Regions from separate parts of the Homo sapiens genome. Here region 1 is linked to region 2. Evidence: fine-mapped expression QTL. A gene starts in region 2. The other region holds a variant in brackets. All regions are shown on one strand. Distances are between the middles of the regions. Region 1 holds the start of CCNF (cyclin F). Region 2 holds the start of BICDL2 (BICD family like cargo adaptor 2).

Region 1 (5,361 bases), 610 kb before region 2:
CCTGCCCCTCACTACCCATAACGTTTTCAACCGACACCTCATTCCACCAGGAATTTCCCTGAGCTCCTAACAGTTTAGACTTTTCCAACAAGGTCTCACCTTCCTGAAGCCCAGTGGGAAACGGGCCCACACCCTGGAGGAGCCACTTATCACCCCAGGGCAGCCCTGGAGGCTCCCACTGCCAGTGCAGGGTGTGGGGCGAGAGCAGGCATGGCTGCAGTCAAGACAACTCCTGCTCCCTGAAAAAGAAATTTGCCTGTCCATGTTGAAAGGAGAGTGATCAGGACACAAAGCACAGGATAGAGCTAAACAACAACCTAGGGACCAAGGATGCTGTTCTAGATTCTAGAGGCAGCTGGTGTGGCTAATGTGCTCATGGCTGGCTCTAGTTGATTAATCCCTTCAAGATGCTATGGAAGCTAACCCTGAAAGTGCACCTCTGCCCTAGGGGGAGACAGGTAACAGTGACAAAGTAGGAAACAGTAACCCAGGAGGACAAAAGTGAGATAAGGGGATAATAAATCTGGGGGCTGAGAACATGGGACATCTGGGGAGCAGGCCCCAAACTCGCTCAGCCTGTCCTCTCTTCACCCTCCTTCACCCGCTTCCTGATTCCGGGACAGGGAATATTCCCAACTTCCAGACCCTCTCTGGGGCCACGGACTCTTCTGTACCCTGTGCTGTGATCACCTGTTTACTCTGTCTCTTGCCCCAGGCCGGCTGAAGCCTGCACGCCAGGGCTCCTGTCTGTGTGCCCAGGGCAGGCCCAGTACTTGAAGGAGTTCTATGGGGACCCGGAAGGATGGAAGGGTGCAGACTGAGGGAAGCGTGAGGGAGGGGTGGGCAGCCTTGGCCCAGGCCCCTGCCTTCCCCAGGAAAAGCCCCCTCTGTCCTCCACCAGACAGTCAGGAGGCTGCGAGTCTTCCCCTTGACAGCCTGTGCCGTAAAAGGGGTGCGGTGTGGCTGACTCCTGAAGGACAGCTCAGATGGGCACTGCCCAAGACAAGAGTGAGCAGATACGACACTTCCCGCGGCGAGCAGCTCCAGGTAGCAGCCGAGGAGGCCAGACAGGGGGCAGCATCTGGCCAAAGTGATGGGGAGGGCTTGCCCCGGGGCTGGAGCACTGAGGCGTCCAGGGTGCGCCACGTTTCGCGGGAAGAAGGGGTCAGCGTTCCGCGGGGGAGACTTCCCAGCGTCAGCTCCGACCTCCTCTTTCTCTACCACGATCCCGGCCAGCATCCCCGCCCAGCAGCGGCTCAGCCACAAACCCAAGGGTCTCCACCTGAAGCAGGCGGCGGAAGGGAAGGCCGTGCAAGCTGGGGGTGAGGGTCGCGGGCCCAGGAGCGACCCCGGGACCCGGGCAGGGCACGGCCTCGTCTTAGAAGCGCCACGTCGAGGCTGTCCCAGGCTGGATCACGGCCGCGACTGCGAGGGACGCCAAGGAGTCCTCTTTCCCCTGGCCGCAGGCGTGCGCCTTCGCAGCCCATCTGGCACCGCAGATGCCGGTCGCCGGGGTCAGCGGCGAAGCCCGAACCCATGCGGCCGGGAGGGGACGCCCACAAACCCCTGCCCGCCGGCCGGGAAGCGCTCCTACGGGACCCCAGCCCCGTTGGGGAGGCGGGGCGGCCACGCGGGTTCCACCAATCAGCGGCCAATGTTCGAATTCGCGTCCTGGCGCGGCCAATGGCGGGTCCCGGAGCAGGCGGGGAGGGCGTGGAGGGCGGTAAATGAGGCGAGCACAGGGCGGGACATGGGCGGGGCCGGCGGCGGCCCCCCCGGGCAGGCCAATGGGAGGGCCGGGTGCGTTTGAAAACTGGGGTGGGCGGCGGGGCGGGGTCTGCGCCTGCGCGAGGGCTACGCGCGCTCCGGCCGGGGCGCGGGCGCGCTCTCAGGCGGGCTCCGGCGGCAGCGACGCGAGCGCGGCGATGGGGAGCGGCGGCGGTGAGTGCGGGGCGATGTCCGCTGGTTTCTGCCCCACACCCCTTCTGCCTGCCCTGCGGGGCGGACGGTGGGTCCCGCGGGAGGGGAGGCCCTGGCGGCCTGAAGAGGGCTGGCTCGAGCTCTTTAACCCGGGGCGGATGTCGCGTCCCGCGCAGGGAGCCCCGGCGGCCGGGCGCGCGGTTTAAATGCCCGGCGGGCGCCCGAGCCCCTCGGAGCCTTCCCCCGCGGCGACGTTTTCCGGCCCTTTCCTGGGGCAACGATCGGGTCCCGGGGCAGCGATCCGGCGATCGGGTCCCGGGGCGGCGATCGGGTCTCGGGGAGCCAAACACCAGCGCCTCCTGGTCGGGGAAAGGGCTGCGGAGCGCGTGGGGGCGAAGCGATCCCGCAGCCCGGCCGGGCCCTGACCGAGCCTCAGTCCAGCGGGGCCGTGGACCTAGCTCTGTGGAAAGCAGCGTTCGGCCCCGCGCGCGTTGAGGCACAGGAAACACGAACTGTGGTTTCAGCTATTATCATAGTATCTGTCCTGGAGCCGGAGAATGAGGAATATTTTATGGAGAGGTCTATAGAATCTTTGAGAATTCGTCGCCCTGGAATACGTTTGGCTTTTGCAGCTGATTTAATTGCTAACAGGAAGACCCCGGTCAAGAGAGGGGAGCCGGGAGCAATCGCTAGGAAGTCCTAGCAAGGCGGGGAGGGATTTGGGCCCACAGAGGGGAGTGGCGCTTCCTTTCAGGACTGGAAGGAAGGATGGATAGAAAGGTAGATTTGTAGATGGGGAGGCAGGATCCTGAGGTTCCTGTCTGAGGGCTTCTGTTTCCCTGTGAAATAAGGGCTAAGGTCATCTGCTTAGAGTGAGGAAGGGGTTGCTGGAGTAGGAGTTGGAAAATCCGGCTGTGGGAAGAGGAGAGAGCACATCTGAGAAGCATGTCCGGGCTGCCTGCCTG[G/A]TGGGTGGAATGCCCGTCTCACCTTTAATGATTGCATCTGTACACAAACCTACAGGTCTAGGTTTGTGTTGGGACCTGAGCAACAACCTTACTGCGTAGCTGTCAACTCCGCATTCTACAATAGAGGGCACACTGAGACTCTGCAGAGCTGAGACTTGGACGCACACTGCCCCGGCCTCCAAGTCTGTGGCTTCTCTCCAGGGCCGACCCTTCTAATTTGGACTTGAAAACCAGACTCTTCAAGCCCACAGATCTTTATTGAACATTATGCACCTTGGTCACGTGTGCAAAAAGCAAAGCTATCCAGCAAAGGCCCCAGGAGTTTTCCTGAGAGTGAAATAGAAGGAAAACCGTCCTCAGCTTCGGCAGCTTTTTCCCCTTCCTGCCTGTCATGTGGGCTCTGGATCAGAAAGTTTCCCAATAGCCAAGTTACATGACATGCGCTATTTGCCATAAATATTTGTTGAATATTTGAAAATGAATGATCTCTTCTGTAATTTGTGCAATGCCACTCCTTTACATAATCTTTGTTTGGGACAAGAAGCATAGTTCCATCTTTTGTGGCACAGGGAATAGTAACCATTAGATCATCTTCAGATGTAACTTTTATCCTTTTTTTTTCCCTTCAAGGGTGTGTATATAGAATAATTTTTCATCTTATCAAGGCTTCTGTCTTTTTTTCCTTCAGTGGTCCACTGTAGGTGTGCCAAGTGTTTCTGTTATCCTACAAAGCGAAGAATAAGGAGGAGGCCCCGAAACCTGACCATCTTGAGTCTCCCCGAAGATGTGCTCTTTCACATCCTGAAATGGCTTTCTGTAGAGGACATCCTGGCCGTCCGAGCTGTAAGTCCCTGCATGAAAACACTATGAGCCCTAGCATTGTTGATTATACCATCAGGCCTTGTGTTCTTAACTGTCAGAACAAAACTTTGGCTAAAAAAGAGGTTGGGGCAGAGGCCAGGCACGGTGGCTCATGCCTTAATCCTAGCACTTTGGGAGGCCGAAGGGGGGTGGATCACCTGAGGTCAGGAGTTCCAGACCAGCCTGGCCAACTTGGCAAAACCCCCATCTCTACTAAAAATACAAAAATTAGCCGGGCGTGGTGTCTCACGCCTGTAATCCCAGCTACTAGGGAGGCTGAGGCGGGAAAATTGCTTGAACCTGGGAGGCAGAGCTTGCAGTGAGCCGAGATCACATCATTGCACTCCAGCCTGGGCGACAGAGCGAGACTCTGTCTCAAAAAAAAAAAAAAAAAAAGGAGGGCAAAAAGGAAACAAGGATGATATCATTACCAGATGCTTTCTTTAAGACATTCTGATTACAGAAATTCCTACTGCTGTCTCCTAGCACACTAAAATTGCCTCTGTTCATTGCAGTGTCAACAAAGAAAGTACCTTTTTTTTTTTTGAGACAGAGTCTCGCTCTGCCACCCAGGCTGGAGTGCAGTAGCGCAATCTCGGCTCACTGCAAGTTCCGCCTCCCAGGTTCATGCCATTCTCCTACCTCAGCCTTCCGAGTAGCTGGGACTACAGGCACCCGCCACCACGCCCGGCTAATTTATTGTATTTTTAGTAGAGTTGGGGTTTCACTGTGTTAGCCAGGATGGTCTCTATCTCTTGACCTCGTGATCCGCCCGCCTCGGCCTCCCAAAGTGCTGGGATTACAGGCATGAGCCACTGCACCCGGCTGAAAGTACCCTTTTATGGCAGTGAAATTTGCATCCCTTAAAAAATAGGATAGTGTTTAAAAGAATAAGAATACATTCTTGAGGACAAATTCCATGTAACATTTAACACTGAAATGGACTCTAGGAGTTATTTTCTAGATATTGGAACCATAGGCTTACTTTGAGTGACTTAACCTAGAGTATATAGTGGATTCATGGGGAAATGCCAGCAAGAACCCATTTTCTGACTCCCAAAGCCACCTCCATTGCAGGTGCGACACACTTTATGGACCCCAGGGGGTGCTGAATTTCCAATGGCAGTGGAAACTTTGGTGCTTAAAGTGTTCACCTGTGCTCCAGGTCCTGGCCTGGACACTCCTGCGTTGGCCCAGCGCTTAGGCTCCGGGTTCTACCTGAGACCTCCATCATGGGTGTTGTTCTTTGCCCTGAGTCCCTGTGACCTGTTTCCACACTCCCACTAGCAAGGCCTCCAGCGGGGAAGCACAAAACACATTTCCGTCCTGCCTGCCCCCTTTTAGAGTGTTTCCCCTGTCTTTGGGGGTGATACCTTTGCAGGGATGTTGAACCCTCTTTCTCAGCCTAGGTGTTTGTTTCCTCCTTCCCAGATCATTGTCCTCTGCCCTGCTTTAGAACCTCAGAGAAACTCGTTTCTGGGCTCTTTTATCTGCTCAAAGTGACAGTTACTTTCACACAGAGATTGGGGACCTCAACTACTTGGGATGGCGAGGGAGACAGGAGACCCTACATCTGCCTCTCGTCCTCAAGAGCCTCCAGGTGTGGGGCTTTTGG
Region 2 (5,361 bases):
TCGCCTGGTGTTCCGCTATACTGCTGAGGAGCTGGACCCAAGATCCAGAGAGGGCCAGCAGCTGACCCAGGGTCACACAGCTGGACGAGGGTCTGAACCCAGTTTGTTTTTGTTTTTTGAGATGCAGTCTCGCTCTGTCACCCAGGCTGGAGTGCAGTGGCATGATCTTGGCTCATAGCAACCTCTGCCTCCCAGGTTCAAGTGATTCTCCTGCCTCAGTCTCCCAATTAGCTGGGACTACAGGCACACCCCATCATGCCTGGCTAATTTTTTTTGTATTTTTAGTAGAGACGGGGTTTCACCATGTTGGCCAGGCTGGTCTTGAAGTCCCGACCTCAAGTGATCCAGCCACCTCAGCCTCCCAAAGTGCTGGGATTACAGGTGTGAGCCACCATGCCTGGCCTGAATCCAGGTCTTAATCCTCAGAGTTCATGCCTTTTTTCCTTTCCTTTCCTTTCCTTTTTTTCTTTTCTTTCTCTCTCCTTCCTTCCTTCCTTCCTTCCTTCCTTCCTTCCCCTTCCTTCCTTCCTTCCTTTTTTTTTTTTCAGGATCTCACTCTGTTGCTCAAGCTGTAGTGCAGTGGATCATAGAATCATAGCTTACTGCAGCCTCAAACTCTAAAATTCCTGGGCTCAATTGATCCCCCTGCCTCGGCCTCCTGAGTAGCTGAGACTACAGGTGCCACCACCACATCCAGCTAATTTTCTTATTTTTTGTAGAGACAGAGTCTCACTACGTTGCCCAGGCTGTTCTCCAACACTGGGCTAGTGATCTTCCTGCCTTGGCCTCCCAAAGTGCTGGGATTACAGGTGTGAGGTACTGTGCCCGGCACCCAGAGTTCATGTTCTTTGCCACTGGGCAACACTGCCAGGGGGACTGGGCCCAGCTCTGACCTGTTCCAAAGTGCCCCCCTCGCCCGGCTGTCCTCCCCAGCTCCTCTCTCCTTCCCTTGCCTGACTCCCTTCCCTTGTCCTCTCCAGGCCCACCCGTCCTCCCCTGCCCACCCACCCACCCACCCCGTCCAGTGCTAGCTCACTTCCTCACGCTCCAAGTGCTGGGCGCTCAGCGTCTCCAGCTGCCGCCGCAGCTCTTCATTTCGCTCCAGAAGCATCTTGCCGAGCTCCGCGGCCAACAGCAGGTCTTTCTCCTTCTGCTGCAGCTGCAAGGCTAGGTCCTCGGGCTCCTCAGGCCCTGGGCCCCCTCCCAGGAATGAGTCCCGCCGCTCCAGCACAAAGGGGAAGAAGCCCTCGTCGCCGCTGGGAGAGGCGCCCCCTGAGAGCGGCCCGGACGGGAAGCTGGGCCCATCTGGAGAGCTCATGTCACCTGCAGCATCTGCGGGGACAGGTGGCTGCGGGACACTCTACTCTGCAGCCTGACAGGGGCTCACCCTCCGCCCAGCACCTGGCCCTCCAGGAATTCTCCACCTGCTGCCAGCCTGCCCGGTCCTGCAGCCAGGGCTTCCTGGGCCACAAAGGGTTAATGACCTGTGTTTTGGCTACCCAGTTCCGTTAATGTCCCTGGGGTAAACTGAGGCAGGAAGCAGAAGGAAATGACCTGCCCAGCCTTTGGCCTCTGCCAGACAATCTCTGTCCCCAGGAAAGCTCATTCCAGTGCTCCAGGGCCACAGGCCACCTCTGCTCCCTGTCCCCTCTCTTCCCAGAACCCAGCAGTTTGGCTTGTAGCCCCTCGCCATCTGAGACAGTTCCCAGAACCCAGGTTCTCAGGGACTCAGCAGTTGGAGTTGGGCCCAGCCTCTTCTCTCAGGAATGCAGGACCCTAAGGCTTGGGAACTGAGGTATCTTCGCCCCCAGGAATCCAGCTCCTTCCCCTGCCAGAAGCCCAGATCCCAGCCCCTGACCTCCCGGGTCTCTCGCCCTCATTCTCCTGCTACCTCCTGAGCAGGTGCTTTGACTCCACCCTCCAGACTCAGAGGTCCCCACCTCCAATGTCCCCCACCAAGGATTCCCACCCCAGTCCCCATTTTCCACGGGACTCAGGCATTCATGCCCCCACCCCTCCGGACTCAGGAGCCCTGACCCTCAGCCCCCCAGTTTCCCAGGGCCCTGGCGTGGGGCCCAGGACAGGGCGAGGTAACAGGTTGTGCCGGCCGCCCGGCCGCAGCGCGGCTCGGAGTTTCTGTTTACTTCCCGGTCCGCCCCTGGGGACGGGAGCCCTGGGCTCCCCTAGGGCGGCTCAGGGGCTGGGGTTCAGGGGCTCGGGTCAGAGGGCCCGACACAACAGCTTTACCAGCCCCAGCCCTCCGGGGGCTCACCACCCACTAGGCACACACACCCGTGCTCTCCCTCCTCCTCTCGCCCGGTGTCCATGTGCAGCCCTGCTCGCAGGACGTGAGTGTCACGGTGGTCCCAGCCCAGCCGCCCCCAGGCCGCTCCCGGGGACCTCCCTGACTTGGCCCTCGCGGGCCCCGCTCCCCCGCCCCCCTCCACGCGAGAGACAGGGACCTGGAGACCGCTCCCCCTCCCCTTCCGCACCTAGCTGCCCAGGTGTTGGGGCCTCCAGCCCCAGGCGTCGGAAGCCCAGAGAAGCGGCTGGGCTCACCCCCGACGGCTGAGTTCCTGCCGGCGCCCCCGGTTCCCCGGCGATCCCGGTTCCCCTGCCCCCGCCCCGGCTCCCCCACCTTCTCCGCCGACGCGGCCGGACCAGGCCCTCCCCAGGCTCGAGGGGCCCGGCCCTCGGCGTCCCCCAGGCTCTCACCCGAAGCCGCCGGGCTCCCTCCGAGGTCCCCGCGGTCTCCGGTCCCCTCTTCCGGAGGCGGCTCCAGGTGTGCGGCCAACACAGGTGAAGGGGCGGGGCCGCGGGAGGGGCCGGGGCGCTCCCTGGCTGCCTGAATGGCCGGGCGGGGTCGAGGGAGAGTCGCTTCCACCTGGGTGGGGGGCACTGGCCCAACCTGCTGTGGTTGCAAATGGCCCGGCCAGTTAACTGAGCATCTACTGTTTGCAGATCCTACATTGAGGTAGCCTCCGCTCCTTTCCCGTCACGACTGCCTTGCCCTGTGGGGCAGGAAATTATTAGCAATGACAACAACACCGAATCTGACATCTTAAGCATTCTGCTAAGTAAACTCTTTTTTATTTTTTAGAGATGGGATTTTGCTCTGTCACGCAGGCTGGAGTGCAGTGGCACCATCACTGCAGTCTCGTCCTCCCAGGCTCAAGCGATCCTCCCACCACAGCCTCCCCCGTAGCTGGGACTGCAGGTACATGCCACCATGCCCAGCTAATTTTTGTACTTTTTGTAGGGGTGGGGTTTCACCATGTTGCCCAGGCTGGTCTCAAACTTCTGGATTCAAGCAATCCTCCCGCTTCGGCCTCCCAAAGTGCTGGGATTACAGGCATGAGCCTCTGCTTCTGGTCAAGTAAACTCTTTTATAGGCATAACTTGTTGACCTTTTTTTTTTTTTTTGAGATGGAATTTTACTCTTCTTGCCCAGGCTGGAGTACAGTGGTGCCATCTCAGCTCACAGCAGCCTCCGCTCCCGGGTTCAAGTGATTCTCCTGTCTCAGCCTGGTGAGTAGCGGGTACTATAGGCATGCACCACTACATCCAGCTAATTTTGTATTTTTAGTAGAAATGGTGTTTCAATGTTTTGGCCAGGCTGGTCTCAAACTCCTGACCTCGTGATCCGCCCACCTCAGCCTCCCAAAGTGCTGGGATTACAGAGTGAGCCACCTCCCCGGCTCAACTTGTTGACTTTCATGATGACCTGATGACGAGGAACTGCTGTCATCCCCATCTTACAGATGAGGAAGCTGAGGCTCGGAGGCGGAGGGGGGTCCTCCACCTTGTTTGGGGTCCCCTGGTCAGAACTGGAAGGTGAACAGCACAAGTGTGGCTTTAGGGTCATGCTCTTTACTGATTCCCATGCCGCAGACAAGGACACTGTAGCCCAGGCAGTGAGAGTGACTTGCCCAGAGCCATGCCCGAGTCCGTGTGGCTCCACACCTGGGGTTCTCAGTTCCTCAGTTATGCAGAGCTGGGGACCGTGCTCTTGTCTGGGACAGGGGCTTTGGTGTGGAGATGGGAAGGTCCGGGGCTGGGGACCCAGGGTGGCTTGGGCAGCAGTGATGCCCCATCCATGGCCTTGTGTCTTGTCACGATTTATCTCCAGACTCCAGGGCTCCCTGGGCCTCGTGACAGGGGCTCCTGGCCTGGAGAGCAGGACAGATGGAAGGCTGGGAGCAGTGGCGTGCTGGTAAGCGTTTAACAACAGGCTCCCCGGCTAAAACAATAGCCCTCGCTCGTTGCATTTGCCAATATCCATGATGCAATACCTGCTCCTCGGCTGACTTCCAGCTACTCACCTGGCGTCACGGAGTGCAGAGGTAGAAGGGGCTGTGCACATCAGCTCTGGCTGGCTGGTGTCAGCTGGGTCCGTGCACCTCTGGCTGGGGATCAGGACTCCTGAGTCTTGGGGGACTGGGGGCTACTTACTTGGGTTCTAGAAAAATAGGAGGAGGGTGGGGGCTGGGACTCCTGGCTTGTGGGAAAAGGGGAGCAAGGACTCCTTGGAGGGGTGACTTAGGAACTGGGACTCCTGGGTCCTGGGGCTGGGACAGGGTTTTCTGCCAGCAGAGAGTAGGGGAGCCAGAGATTTGTCTTACAGCCACATTGCCCAGCAAGCCTGACACTTTCTCCCACTGCACCTGTGGGAGCAGCCTGGTAGCCACTGGAGGACTGAAGACATCCCAGCCTCCCCTGGGTGCTGCTATGTGACCCTCTGGAAATAGAAGCTCAGTGTCCCCTCCAAATGCCAGTCACCCTGGGCCCCACTCACACCCACACGTAGCACATCTTGAGCGCCTCCTGCCAGGCTGAGCTCATCCCAGGATGAAGTGATTACAGCCCTACTCCCAGAAGGTTCACAGTCCACCTGGGCCATGGGAGGGAGCGTAGACCTATAAACCAGAAATGAACCAATAAAACAGTACAGCAAAGTGCTTGGCCCATGGGTGCTGGCATCACATAGCTTCGGTCCAGGATCCAGTTGGCCACATACCAGATGTGGGTGCCTATGCCCTTCAGCTGATTAACCTCTGCGGCCCTCAGTTTCCCCATCTGTAAAATGGGGATGATAGTTCCTAGCTTATAGGGATGTGAGGATTTTTTTTGAGATGGAGTCTCGCTCTCTCCCCCAGGCTGGAGTGCGGTGGTGAGATCTCGCCTCACCGCAACCTCTGCCTCCCGGTTTCAAGCGATTCTCCTGCCTCAGCCTCCTAAGTAGCTGGGATTACAGGCGTGTGCCACCACACCTGGCTAATTTTTGTATTTTTAGTAGAGACAGGGTTTCACTGTGTTGCCCAGGATGGTCTTCAACTGACCTCAGGTGATCTGCCCGCCTCA

The links.
Region 1: its variant is fine-mapped to the expression of BICDL2 in minor salivary gland (GTEx, PIP above 0.99).

The regions. Positions count from the first base shown.
Region 1 is chr16:2,427,557-2,432,917 of GRCh38, forward strand. It overlaps CCNF (cyclin F), which reads left to right and starts at 1,891. Exons shown (of 17, transcript NM_001761.3): 1 at 1,891-1,941; 2 at 3,574-3,728. The coding sequence starts at 1,926. RefSeq lists enhancers at 952-1,531, 967-1,146 and silencers at 1,357-2,206, 2,217-2,266. The variant G/A (reference allele first, on the strand shown) is at 2,886.
Region 2 is chr16:3,034,179-3,039,539 of GRCh38, forward strand. BICDL2 (BICD family like cargo adaptor 2) reads right to left here and starts at 2,766. Exons shown (of 10, transcript NM_001369667.1): 1 at 2,716-2,766; 2 at 1,037-1,348. The coding sequence starts at 1,318. It overlaps LOC100128770 (a long non-coding RNA gene), which reads left to right. Exons shown (of 8, transcript NR_047572.1): 3 at 720-816; 4 at 1,160-2,782; 5 at 3,101-3,217; 6 at 3,452-3,528; 7 at 3,657-3,834; 8 at 4,130-4,955. RefSeq lists an enhancer at 3,476-4,363.